Linked DNA regions of Homo sapiens. The protein of the gene in region 2 binds, or shares a complex with, the protein of the main gene of each other region. Each region holds a gene or a part of one and is shown on either strand. Other genes may lie near its edges.

Region 1 (7,115 bases), on a different chromosome or scaffold from region 2:
AGAGTTGGAGACCAGCCTGGGGAACATAGTGGGACCTCGTCTCTACAAAAACATAAATATTTAAATTAAAAAAAAAAAAAAAGTTCAGCCTGGGCAACATGGCAAAACCCCATCCCTACCAAAAAATACAAAAATTAGCCAGGGGTGATGGCATGTGCCTGTAGTCCCGGCTACTCAGGAGGCTGAGGCCGGAGGATCACTTGAGCCCAGGAGGCAGAGGTTGCAGTGAACCACGATCGCACTACTGCACTCCAGCCTGGGTGACAGTGAGACCCTGTCTGCAAAAAAAAAAAAAAAAAAAAAAAAAAGTCAAACATAATAAAGTTACTACATAACCCAGCAATTTCACTCCTTGAATAAAAAACTCAAGAGAATTAAAAACATTGTCCACAACCTTGTACACGAATGTGCACATCATCAGCATTATTCATAATGGCCAAAAAGTGGAAACAACCCAATTGTCTATCAAGTGATGGATAAATAAAACTTGGTATATTCATACAACAGATTATTATTCAGCTAAAAAAGGAATTAAGTATTGATACATGCTACATAAGAATGAACCTTAAAAAGTGTTATGTCAAGTGATTAAAAAAAACAAAAAAAAGTCCAGAAGAGCACGTATCATTCCATTTGTATGAAATATCCAGAATAGGCAAATCTACAGAGACAAGAGAGTTGGCTGGGTATGGTGGCTCACACTTGTAATCCCAGCACTTTTGGAGGCCAGGACTGGTGCATTACTTCAAGACCAGCCTGGACAAAACCTCATCTCTACTAAAAATACAAAAATTAGCCAGGCCACTCGTGGCGCATGGCTGTAATCCCAGCTACTTGGGAGGCTAAGGCACGATAATCGCTTGAACCTGGGAGGCGGAGGTTGCAGTGAGCCAAGATCTAACTACTACACTCCAGCCTGTGTGACAGTGAGACTCTGTCTCAAATTAATTAATTAATTAATAGAAAGTAGATGAGTGCTTGCTTGGGGGTGGTGAGGAGGGGACAACATGGACTGACAGTTAAGGAGTAAGGGGTTTTTCTTAGAATAAAATGTTCTAAAATTAGATTGTGGTGATGGTTGCACAACTGTGAATATACTAAAAACCATTATATTGTACATTTTAAGTAGGTTAATTTTATAGTATGTGAATTATATCTCAATAAAGCTGTTTAAAAAAAGAAATACAGCTGGCCTGGTGGCTCACACCTGTAATCCCAGTAGGTTGGGCGGATCGCTCGAACGCAGGAGTTCGAGACCAGCCTAGGAAACATGATGAAACCCCCATCTCTACAAAAAAATAAAAAAAATTAGCTGGGCATGGTGGTGTGCACCTGTAGTCCCAGCTACTCAAGAGGCTGAGGTGGAGGATCATTTGAGCCTGAGATATGGAGGTTGCAGTGAGCCAAGATCACACCACTGCCCTCCAGCCTGGGCCACAGAGTGCAATCTTGTCTCAAAAAAAAAAAAAAAAAAATAGGCCTGGCAGTGGCTCACGCCTGTAATCCCAGCACTTTGGGAGGCCGAGGCGGACAGATCATGAGGTCAGGAGATTGAGACCATCGTGGCCAACATGGTGAAACCCCGTCTCTACTAAAAATACAAAATTAGCCAGGCATGGCCAGGCGCAGTGGCTCACACCTGTAATCCCAGCACTCTGGCAGGCCGAGGTGGGGGGATCACCTGAGGTCAGGAGTTCGAGACCAGCCTGGCCAACATGGCGAAACTCTGTCTCTACTAAAAAATACAAAAATTAGCTGGGCGTGTCCGCACCACTGCACTCCAGCCTGGGCAACAGAAGGAGACTCAGTCTCAAAAAAAGAAGAAAAAGAAAAGAAAGTCTACTTACAGCTTAATATGATTAACTATAGAAATCTACCGATGTGAAAGAGTATCTAACAATTTCTAAGACCCAGAAAAGCTGACATCCTAGATACCTTACCAATTTTGATCGCCACTTCTCATGACAGAAGATGCTAAACATAGCTTCTCTCGGATGGACCATGGCTCTGTGGGGCCAGTGCTTAGCAGCTTGTGTTCTGGGAAAGGGAGAAAAAAAAAAAAGCCTTGGAAACAACCACTGAGACTGTAGTGCTAAGCTCCAAAATCCCCAAAAAGAGGACTAAAAGCCTAATACAAAACATCCCAACTTGTTAGGACAAAGTGAGCTACTATAACCAAATCTTGATTTTCACCTCTCCAAGTGAAATATCACCAGTGACCGGGGTACCTATTCGTTGCATGTGAATTATTAACATTTTATTTCTTAAAACGCCATGGCTTGAAGCTCCGCTTTATTAAGAAACAGGGAATGTCAGATTAGGCAGTTCTCCCTAAAAGCCCAGTTTTAAGAATACTGGACTTTATTCCAGTTTGAACTTATTCAGGGCTTATTTCCCAGGAACCCGAGCGGCCAGCCCCTCCTACTACCCCGCCTCCCTCTTAGCATAAACTTGTTTACTTCTCTCAGATCCTCTACTCCAAATGTCGGGGGTAAAAGAGCTTTTCAGTCCAAAAAAAGAAAAATGGCTGAAATCCCCGAGATGCAATTTCCTGAGTGGCAAGAAAAGCTCATGGTTAAAAGACCCCACTTCCACTGCCTCACAAACGTCAGACAAAAAAATGAATGGCTCTTTGAGGTGCCGGTTACTCCGTCTGGCTCATAACATCTTTTCGTCTGCACGCCCAAGTTTCTAGAGTGCTTTTACGGTTAACCCGCAGAGTTCCTAACACACTAGGATTCACTAAGCTGCTTCTCTCACACCTCCGCTCTCTCCCTGAGAAACAAGACCCCAGATTTCTGGGCCCCCAAACGTTGGTCTTCACGATGCTGTAGAGCGCAGGTCTCTGAAAACCCTGGGCTCTCAAGCAACCCACTTCTCCCACTCCCTAAGCGTGTAACAAAAATATGGTGCCTAGCCTCGGATCTACAAAGGCCTTTCACGCAAAACCTGCTCAGATACTCACTGCCCGTTCCCGTCGCCATCTTGGCCCCGAAGTCTCCAACCCTGAGGAGAGACGGTCTGGAAGGGCCGAAACCCTGGAATTCTGGGAAATAGTGTACCGGCGTTGGTTCGCGGTGCCTCCTGGGAAATGTCGTTTTTCCCCTTAAGACAAAGCAAGCACCCTAAACCAGTTACCCTGTGCACTCCTGTTAAGATTGTTGCTAAGGAAGGACAGGAGTTGGCTGCTGAAGCCTCAAGATTTCCTTTAGGCTCTTAGGTAAGAAATGTCTAAGGTTCAAGGAAAAAGGTTAAGTTGGAAGAATCCCAGGCAAAATAAGTGCGAATCCACGACAGTTGGTAACCCGGACCCACATTAGAACTCAGAGGTCAAGCAGAAGCGAACGACTGGAATTCCAGTCAGGCCCGCCCCCTTTCCTTACGCGGATTGGTAGCTGCAGGCTTCCCTATCTGATTGGCCGAACGAACGCAGCGCGTAATTTAAAATATTGTATCTGTAACAAAGCTGCACCTCGTGGGCGGAGTTGTGCTCTGCGGCTGCGAAAGTCCAGCTTCGGCGACTAGGTGTGAGTAAGCCAGTATCCCAGGAGGAGCAAGTGGCACGTCTTCGGGTGAGTGTGCGGCTGTGCTGGAGCCCGGGTTACCAGCTCTTGCCCGCGCGGAATAGGCTTTAAGAAATCGGAGCTGCAGCCATCTGTTTTTCTCTTAATGCTGCATCTCTGTTCTCACGGTGGTCCTTGGGGTGAGGTTAGAGAAGGAGCCGAGGGATCCTGACACCACCTCCACAGCACCGGCGGGCGAGGTGCCCTACTTTAGGCGTAGCCTTCTGCTTTTGGAGCCAGATGTCTGTGGACTTCTGTTCGCGTTCAGAAATGCCGCCTCAAACTTCTCTCAATTGTTCATTAAGTGAACTTCTCTCATTCCCTTCCCCTTTGCCGATAATTGGAGGGGAAAAGAAGTAGGAAGCGGGACACGGTGTCCTGGGGCAAGGGACTTATTACCTAAAATTCGCGGCCCCTTCTGTCCCTAAAGGTTCTTCTCCCTGCCCACTTTTTGGTCTCTTTTTAGACCTAGGCTGCCCCTGCCGTCATGTCGCAAGGGATCCTTTCTCCGCCAGCGGGCTTGCTGTCCGATGACGATGTCGTAGTTTCTCCCATGTTTGAGTCCACAGCTGCAGATTTGGGGTCTGTGGTACGCAAGAACCTGCTATCAGACTGCTCTGTCGTCTCTACCTCCCTAGAGGACAAGCAGCAGGTAAAGGAACTGGGGAGTGGCTGGGGCGGAAAGTGATATCCTCAGGCCAATAATTGTCCATACAGGGTAGTATGAGGTCAAAGACTAGCAATCCTAAAGGTCTGAGATCAATTCAAAATTAAGGGCATTTAGGACAAAATGGCTATGAAAAGAAAAAAAGAAAAAAAAATTAAGGGCATGACAAGTAAAAAAAAAATTGAGTTGTGTGTCCAGAAGAACTATAATTTGCATTGCATTAATGAAATAGCCTCAAATGCATGCTCTTAGTTAATCTTTCAGGGAATAATAGTTATCTCTCTTTGCCTTGAGGCCCAGTTGTGCTAAATAATTTGCACAAGGTCATATAGGCATTATGTAAGTGGAATGTATGTTCAGGTTTTAATAGTATCACCATAGCTTCAATTTGTTGTAGGTTTCCTGCTAGGCCAGGGTTTCTCAGTTACAGCATTATTGACATTTGGGGCTAGACAGTTCTTGTAGGGATCTGTCCTGTACATTTCAAGATGTTTAATAGCATTCTTGGCATTTACCCACTAGATGTCAGTAGTGCCTTCCCATTTGTGACAATCAAAAAATGTCTTCAGGCACTTCAGGCATTGCTAAATGGCCCTTGGAGTGGAAATGACCCTGGTTGAGAAACACTGTACTAGGTCCTATGCTAAACATTAACATACATTGTCAGATTTTGTGCTCTTATAGAGTTTCTCTTAGAGACTTATAAAGTTCCATGAGAGCATGGTCCTTGATGATGTCTCTCACTATGGACTATCAGAGCTTCTCGGTTCCTAGGCCATAGTAGACACTCTAAATATCTGGGTTTTTTTTGTTTTTTGGGTTTTTTTGTTTTCGAGATGGAGTCTCGCTCTGTCCCCCAGGCTGGTGTGCAGTGGCACAATCTCTGCTCACTGCAACCTCCGCCTCCCGGGTTCAAGCAGTTCTCCCTGCCTCAGCCTCCTGAGTAGCTGGAATTACAGGCACCTACCACCAAGCCCAGCTAATTTTTGTATTTTTAGTAGAGATGGGGTTTTGCTGTGTTGGCCAGACTGGTCTGGAACTCCTGACCTCAGGTGATCCACCCTCTTTGGCCTCCCAAAGTGCCGGGATTATAGGCGTGAGCCCCTGCACCCAGCCTCTAAGTATCTGTTGAATGAATGACATAGGTGCTATTATTAACCCCATTCTGCAGATGAGGAAACTGAGGCCAAGAATTTCAAGAACTCATAATTCAAGGTCTCATAGTTACTAAGTCATGGAATTGGGACTCAAATTCAAGTGTTTGCCTCTGCTTTGCTTTAATATCACATACTAATTTTCATACCAGTCAATAAATTCGAACTCAGATCATCGGTGTGGCAAGCCACATTTGCAGGATAATGACGAGACAGGGAAGGGTGACAAAGTAGTAAAAATGTCCATGTGGGTTGGAATGATTGTGGAACCAAAGAGTAGCTGCACAGAGACATTTGAGGTGAAATGGGGTAGTGTTATCATAGTTCCTAGAAACTACTGTTTGCCCATTTGCTCAGAGGTAACTGCTGAAATTAATCTGTGGTTCTGGGCTGGGATTCTGCCACAGGTTCCATCTGAGGACAGTATGGAGAAGGTGAAAGTATACTTGAGGGTTAGGCCCTTGTTACCTTCAGAGTTGGAACGACAGGAAGATCAGGTAAGTGTCTGAGAAGGGAGGATTCAAGGTGAAATGATGCAGTACAAAAGATTCCCAGGAATGCCTTCTGTGACAACTGTATTTTCTCCCTTCTCAGGGTTGTGTCCGTATTGAGAATGTGGAGACCCTTGTTCTACAAGCACCCAAGGACTCTTTTGCCCTGAAGAGCAATGAACGGGGAATTGGCCAAGCCACACACAGGTTCACCTTTTCCCAGGTATGGAGGGTACTGGTTTGTGAACAAAAGACCAACATGTAAGGGCAACTTTATTCCCTCTTTAGAGGGAAAGCTTCTCTTCCTGACTGTGAGTTCCTTGTATATGCACACCTACAATTTTGAGGGCCCTAGTTATGTGTTAGTCAATGTGTCAAGTAACATATGTATATCAGTTCTGAAAAATTCTATTGTTATTATCATTATTTCCTTATTTTCCTCACAAGGATAGTGTGGCTCAATGAATGTAATATTGCTGAAGCCATGTAGCTAGTCACTAGTAGAGTTAGGACCTGAGTCTAGATCCATGTATCTCCAAAGCCCATACTTGTGGGCCATTATATTGCCCCATTGTGTGTGCAGCATCAGGCCTAGGGCATAGCATTCCTTAAGTGTTTGTTGATTTGGTGGAAAGATGGACTAGCAGAGAGTGCTTGAGTCCTCAGTGTTTAGGGAACAGCCAGCAGCATTGCAGGAAGAAGCTGCTTGAGTGGTCTCCAGAGCCAACCACTCAGGAAGGAATATATCTGCTGGCTCTGCACAGGAGGCAAGTGGGAGATGAAGGAGAGGCCTCTAAAAAACTGGGTCTCTCTCTAGATCTTTGGGCCAGAAGTGGGACAGGCATCCTTCTTCAACCTAACTGTGAAGGAGATGGTAAAGGATGTACTCAAAGGGCAGAACTGGCTCATCTATACATATGGAGTCACTAACTCAGGGAAAACCCACACGATTCAAGGTGAGTAGTAAGCCTTCACGGGATTCCTGATTGGCTGGTAATGGTGTTGTTTTTACCTTTTGAGACTCTGAGTTAGGGGGAGAAGGGCACTTGCCTCAGCTGTCCATCTTTCATATGCCTCCAGGTACCATCAAGGATGGAGGGATTCTCCCCCGGTCCCTGGCGCTGATCTTCAATAGCCTCCAAGGCCAACTTCATCCAACACCTGATCTGAAGCCCTTGCTCTCCAATGAGGTAATCTGGCTAGACAGCAAGCAGATCCGACAGGAGGAAATGAAGAAGCT
Region 2 (6,948 bases):
GAACGTGAAGTACAGCCTAGACCTCAGGTGAACTGGTTAGGGCTAGAATGGCAGCCATATTATAAAGAAAAGGGAAAAAAGCCACTTGAGGGAGAGGGAGTCAACTGGGCTGGCTGACACCTCACATATGTGGTTCTCTCTTCAATCAGTGATGCAGACTAATGGGCTAATCTTGGTACACATGATGCCAAAGCAAGCAAATAACACAGATGGCTGACACTCCAAGCCAGCCAGAGTTCAATTTTGCACTGATGACCATCATTTCCTCCTAACTGATGTTTGTAAAAGACAGCCTGGGAACACATTAATCCCCTCAGCTTTAATCTGGTATTAAGCCATATCACCAGAGGGTAGTAGATCAACCACACATTAGCTTAGTGCCCAATCAACATACTTGCACTAAATTAAGGATTTACTACCATTCCTTCGGCTTTTATTGAGAGTCATTAAGAGACATCACTAGAAAAGAGAATGTTTGTATATCATCTATGAAAACCATTACTTTTTATAATATAAGGATATAATGATAAATGCTCCCTAGGATTTAAGGCTGAAAAAGTTTGTGTCTCTTGAAGAACTTGTATGCTTCTTTCTTACTAAAAAAAGAAATACAAGGTTTGGCTACCAGGAAGCTCACAACTAAATTTAATATCAATTGCTATTACCATTTTAGCAGAGGTTCCTGGTACAATTACTTCTGATCTGTCTCTATTTTTACTGTTCCTACTTTTTGTTTATATTGTAAGCCTCCTTAAATCCTTTTTGGAAGCATGAAGGGTACATATTAAATAACAAGTCGTAAAATGACAGAAATAGGAAAATGGCCTTAGAGGAGGGATGAGAAAGTTCTATTTTAAACTAGTTGGTTAGGGCTGTGTCAGTAATGACTCTGTCAGTGATGTGGGTTTTTTTTTTTTTTGAGACAGAGTCTCACTCTGTCGCCCAGGCTGGAGGGCAGTGGCGCAATCCACTGCAACCTCTGCCTCCTGGGTTCAAGTGATTCTCCTGCCTCAGCCTCCTAAGTAGCTGGAATTACAGGCACACGCCACCACAACCAGCTAATTTTTTGCATTTTTAGTAGTGACAGGGTTTCACCATGTTGGTCAGGCTGGTCTCGAACTCCTGACCTCGTGATCCACCCGCCTCAGCCTCCCAAAGTGCTGGAATTACAGGCGTGAGCCACCACACCCAGCCCCTAAGTCCTGTGGGTTCTATTCCTTAATTTCTCTTGAATCTTTCTGTTTCTCTACTGCCATGCCCCCTTCAAGCCATTCTCATTACAGAGTAAGTAACCTTCCTAAAGTACAAATTTCATCGTGGAATTCTGATGACTCTTCTCAGTCCTCTGGATGAAGAGCAAAATTCCTTAACATAGCTCACAAGGCCCTAAAGGATCTGGCCCATGCCTACTCCCTGCAGGCTTATCAATCTTTAGTCTCCTTCATGCTCTGGAGAATGAAAGTAGACTTGCAGGTCCTAGACCAGGATCTCAATGTCTTTACATACTCAGCCCATCCTGCTCTGTGGACTAACCTTTCTCCTTCTCCTGCTTTTCATCAAGCTAAGGTCTACTTTTCAAACTGTCCTCAGCTTAAACATCATCCCTCCAGGGATGCCTATCCTGATCAACAACTTTGGTTCAGATGTATTACCTTAACACTCTTACACCTTGTTTTAGTCCTTATCACACATTTTTTGTTTGTTTTTGAGACGGAGTCCTGCTCTGTCGCCCAGGCTGGAGTGCAGTGGTACGATCTCGGCTCACTGCAACCTCCTCCTCCCAGGTTCAAGCGATTCTCTGCCTCAGCCTCCTGAGTAGCTGGGACTATAGGCGCACACCACCACGCTTGGCTAATTTTTGTATTTTAATAGAGACAGGGGGTTTTACCATGTTGGCCAGGATGGTCTCGATTTCCTGACCTTGTGATCCACCCGCCTCGGCCTTCCAAAGTGCTGGGATTACAGGCGTGAGCCACTGTGCCCGGCCAAAGCCACTGTGCTCGGCCTATCACACAGTATTTTAACTGTTAACCCAGGCAGTTACCCCACTGGGGCATGGAGTATGTAAGGACAGAGCACTGTTTTTAATATTCTGTTTCCCTAGAGCCTAAAACAACCTATTACCGATGGCATGCTCTGGGTACTCAACACATTTAATAAACGGGTAGATTCAACTAATAAAAATTTAGCAAGTGGCAGCCCAGTCCGGACACCTCACACATAATGTTGAACAAAACAGACCATCTCTAACTTTATACAGTTTACAATGCAATAGAAAAGCATAAGCAAGTAAGCAAACCAAATCTAATTGCAAATTGAAATATGTTCTGTGGAAGAAATAAATGGGGACACTTGTTAGGATAGTCAAGGAAGGGTTATCTTCCTGAGAAAACATTTACACTGAGACCTGAAAGCTGAAAAAGAAGTGGGCTAAGCTCCTCTACTTTTGGAGCGGTTCCTTTCCATGTCTCAGGTGAATAATCCAGCAGTGGGCCAACGAGTATACATCGAGCAACTGTCTACTACTATGTGTGTGCCTCGTGTATGCTGGACGTCAGAAGTACAGTGAAAGATGCAACCACGCAAGTATACGGTAGGTTTCTGCCGTTCTCTGTTCTCTGGAGTGCCTCCGGAGAGCTTCTCCGTCTCAGGCCCCTTTGACCCCATCCAGAGCTCTCCCTTCTAGGACTCCACACTATCCGTTCCCCCGCCTCGCCCCCCGGCTCCGATTCACCCACCCAACTCGAGTATCAGCTCCCAGAGCTCCTCTCTATTCCCCGCCCTCTTCTTCTTTGTCCGGGGTTTCTCCCTTCAGGGCTCCTCTTTGCCTCCTCCCCTCCCTTTTCCCAGGCCCGGATCTTGCCTCTGTGAAACCCCCATAAGTCGTCTGGTAGAACTCATCTTCCTCCTCTGCCTCCAAAAGCCCAGAAAGCCGGTTCCCAGCGGTCTTCCGGGGTGCCCGGCCCCCAGCCAAACTCATACCGCCTACCGAGACTGCGCCGCCACCTGCAGCCCCTCACCAGCTCGGTTTTGGGAGCTCGACGCTCGACATCACTACCTGCGGGTGGCCACCAGCGGCGGAAGTCGGGCGTTTACAGGCAGAAGTAACAGAGTGTCGAGAGACTCCCAGTCCCACCCTCTAAACCCTCTTTACTCTTCAGCCTCTCCTACTCCTGCGCGGATGCTCTAGGCCGCTTGCTCTAGTACCCAGCGATCTCCCTTGCTCAATGAGTCCACTTGGTGGTACGAAGACCCCCATAACCCTAAGTCAACACATTTTATTTTATTTATTTTTATTTTATATATATATATGGTTTTTTTTTTCCGTAGGGACGGAGTCTCGCCTCGCTCTGTCGCCAGACTGGAGTGCAGTGGCACGATCTCGGCTCACTGCAACCTCCGTCCCCCGGGCTGAAGCGATTCTCCTGCCTCAGTCCCCCGAGTAGCTGGGATTACAGGCGCCCGCCACCATGCCCAACTAATTTTTGTATTTTTAGTAGAGACAGCTTTCACCGTGTTGGCCAGGCTGGTCTCGAACTCCTGACCTCAGGTGATCCGCCCGCTTCGGCCTCCCAAAGTGCTGGGATTACAGGCATAAGCCTGCGCCCCCAGCTCACATTTTCTTTTAGAAGAGGTCATTCTCTCCGCTCCAGTCCATTTTCTACACTGCTGCTAGTAGGAAACTTTCTAAAAACCCACGTTTTGCCACTCCTGTCCTCAAACATTTTTAATGGCTCCACATCATCTACAAGATAAAGTCAAAAATCCTTGAGGAAGGAAGCATAGTATTGTGGTTAAAAACACAGCCATAGACATTTATCCAAAGGAAAGGACATAATTCAACCTGAGGAAGCCAATTTAGGAGGAAAAAAAAAAAGGAAATCAGTATATCCAAGAGACGTCTGCACTCCATATTTATGCACCCCCATATTTATTGCAGCACTACTTAGAGTAGCCAAAATAGGAAATCAATCTCTGTGTCCAACAACAGATGAATAAAGGAAATAGGGTGTATATACACAATGGAATACTTTTCAGCCATTAAAAAGAAGAAAATCCTGTCATTTGCAGCAACATGGATGGAACTGGAGGACATGTTAACTGACTTAAGCCACGAACAGAAAGTTAAAACACTGCATGTTCTCACTCATATGTGACGCTTTTAAAAAGTTGATTTCATAGAAGTGAAAGAACAGAGGATACTGGAGGCTGGGAAGAGCAGGGGGAAGGAAGGGACAGGGAAAGATTTGTTAAAAGACACAAAATTGTGGCTCACACCTGTAATCCCAGCACTTTGGGAGGCCGAAGGGGGTGGATCATGAGGTCAGGAGTTCACGACCAGCCTGGCCAAGATGGCGAAACCCCATCTCTACTAAAAATACAAAAATTAGCTGGTCGTGGTGGTGGGCGCCTGTTATCCCAGATACTCGAGAGGCTGAGGCAGAGAATTGCTTGAACTCGGGAGGCGGAGGTTGCAGTGAGCCGAGATCGCGCCATTTGCTCTCCAGCCTGGGAAACAGAGCAAGACTCCGTCTCAGAAAAAAAAAAAAGACAAAATTGGGCCTGGCACAGTGGCTCACACCTGTAATCCCAGCACTTTGGGAGGCTGAAGCGGGCAGATCCCGAGGTCAAGAGATTGTGACCATCCTGGCCAACATGGTGAAACCCCGTATCTACTACAAATACAAAAATTAGCTGGGTGTGGTGGCGCGCACCTGTAGTCCCAGCTACTAGGGAGGCTGAGGCAGGAGAATCGCTTGAACCCGGGAGGCAGAGGTTGCAGTGAGCTGAGATTGTGCCACTGCACTCCAGCCTGGCAACAGAGCAAGACTCCATCTCAAAAGAAAAAAAAAAAAGACACAAAATTACAATTTTTTTTGAGACAGGGTCTCTATTGCCCAGGCTGGAGTGCAGCAGCAGGATCATGGCTCACTGCCTCCTTGACCTCCTGGGCTCAAGCTGTCCTCCCACCTTGGCTTCCAAAAGTGCTAGGATTACAGCTGTGAGCCACCACACTGGCCCCCAATTACATTTGTTTGTTCGTTTGTTTGTTTGTTTGAGATAGGATCTCACTTTGTCACCCAGGCTGGAATACAGTGATGCAATCACTGCTCACTGCAGTCTCGACCTCCTGGGTTCAAGTGATCATCGCACCTCAGCCTCGTGGGTAGCTGGAACTACAGGCTCGTGTCACCACGCCTGGCTAATTTTTTGTACTTTTTGTGGAGATGAGATTTCATCATGTTGCCCACGGTGATCACCTGAGCTCAAGTGATCCCCACTCCTCAGCCTCTCAATGTGCTGGGATTACAGGTGTGAGCCACCTCGCTTGGCCCCAAATTACATTTAGATAGGAGGAATAAATTCTAGTGTTCTTGGCCGGGTGTGGTGGCTCACACCTGTAATCCCAAAACTTTGGGAGGCTGAAGTGGGCAGATCACCTTAGATCAGGAGTTTGAGACTAGCCTGGCCAACATGGCGAAACCCCATCTCTACTAAAAATACAAAAATTAGCCGAGCACGTTGGCGGGTGCCTGTAATCCCACCTACTAGGAGGCAGAGGCAGGAGAATCACTTGAACCCCGGAGGCGGAGGTTGCAGTGAACCAAGATCGCACCATTGCACTCTAGCCTGGGCAACAAGAGTGAGACTCCATCTCAAAAAAAAAAAAAAAAATTCTAGTGTTCTATATCACTGGGGGATAACTATGATTAACAATAATATTTTCAAATAGCTAGAAGAAGGATATTGAATGTTTGTGCTGGAGACAAATAAATTATATATTTGTGAGGCCAGGCACGGTGGCTCACGCCTGTAATCCCAGCACTTTGGGAGGTTAAGGTGGGCAGATTATTTGAGGTCGGTAGTTCAAGACAAGCCTGACTGACATGGTGAAACCTTGTCTTTACTAAAAAGTACGCAAATTGGCCAGGAGTGGTGGCAGGTGCCTGTAGTTCCAGCTACTTAGGAGGCTGAGACATGAGAATCACTTGAAACCGGGAGGTGGAGGTTGTAGTGAGCCAACGTCGTGCCACTGCACTCCAGCTTGGATGACAGAGCGAGACACCATCTCAAAATAAATAAATAAATAAATGATACATTTTTTAGATGACAGATATACTAATTATCCTGATCTGATCACTAAACATTTTATGTATTGAAACATCACTATGTGCCCCATAAATATGTACAATTATGTGCCAATTAAAAATTAAAATAAAATAAAACAACAACAAAAAGAGAACACAGCTTTAGAGCCAGCCAGACCTGAATTTGAGTGTGAACTTTAAGGTCTTTTAGCTGTATGACTTTGGACAAGTTGCTTTACTTCTCTGAATCTCAGTTTTCTCATCTGCAAAGTGGGACTGATAATAATACCTATCTTTTAAGGTCGTAGAAGATTAAGAGATATAATTATTGGCCAGGTGCCATGGCTCACGCCTATAATCCCAGTACTTTGGGAGGCCGAGGCGGGTAGATCACAAGGTCAGTAGTTCGAGACCAGCGTGGCCAGTATGGTGAAACCCCATCTCTACTGAAAATATAAAAATTACCCAGGCATGGTGGCGGGTGCCTGTAGTCCCAGCTAGTCGAGAGGCTGAGGCAGGAGAATAGCTTGAACCCAGGAGACGGAGGTTGCAGTGAGCCAAGATAGCACCACTGCACTCCAGCCCGGGCGACAGAGCCACATTCTGTCTCAAAAAAAAAAAAAAAAAAAAAAAAAGACAGAGAGAGATAATTCTTGTCAACTGCTTAGCACAGTGTTTAGTAAGTGCATAGTAAATGTGTAGTAGGTGGTAACTACTACATGGCATTCAGTATTCAGATCCTTCATAATTTAGCCTCTCCCTGTCCTTCTAGTCACACCTCCTGCGACATCACTACTCCAGCATCTCTCCCCTAACACCCAATTCTCTGTCATGCCTCTATGCCTTTCTTTCTCCTTAG

What was found. The genes of interacting proteins can lie anywhere in the genome.
Region 1: VPS72 (region 2) and BRD8 share a complex: the UniProt entries of both Homo sapiens proteins name them as parts of the nuA4-related complex.

The regions. Positions count from the first base shown.
Region 1 is NC_000005.10:138,175,631-138,182,745, forward strand, and holds the start of BRD8 (bromodomain-containing protein 8), read right to left. Parts: upstream 3,001-7,115; 5' UTR 2,985-3,000; coding exon 2,966-2,984; intron 2,038-2,965; coding exon 1,941-2,037; coding exon of another isoform or gene 1,936-1,940; intron 1-1,935. Other genes in the region: kinesin-like protein KIF20A, read left to right, coding at 4,051-4,215, 5,792-5,881, 5,979-6,098, 6,693-6,831, 6,956-7,115. UniProt on the Homo sapiens protein: May act as a coactivator during transcriptional activation by hormone-activated nuclear receptors (NR). Isoform 2 stimulates transcriptional activation by AR/DHTR, ESR1/NR3A1, RXRA/NR2B1 and THRB/ERBA2.
Region 2 is NC_000001.11:151,187,142-151,194,089, forward strand, and holds the start of VPS72 (vacuolar protein sorting-associated protein 72 homolog), read right to left. Parts: upstream 3,057-6,948; 5' UTR 2,981-3,056; coding exon 2,864-2,980; intron 1-2,863. UniProt on the Homo sapiens protein: Deposition-and-exchange histone chaperone specific for H2AZ1, specifically chaperones H2AZ1 and deposits it into nucleosomes.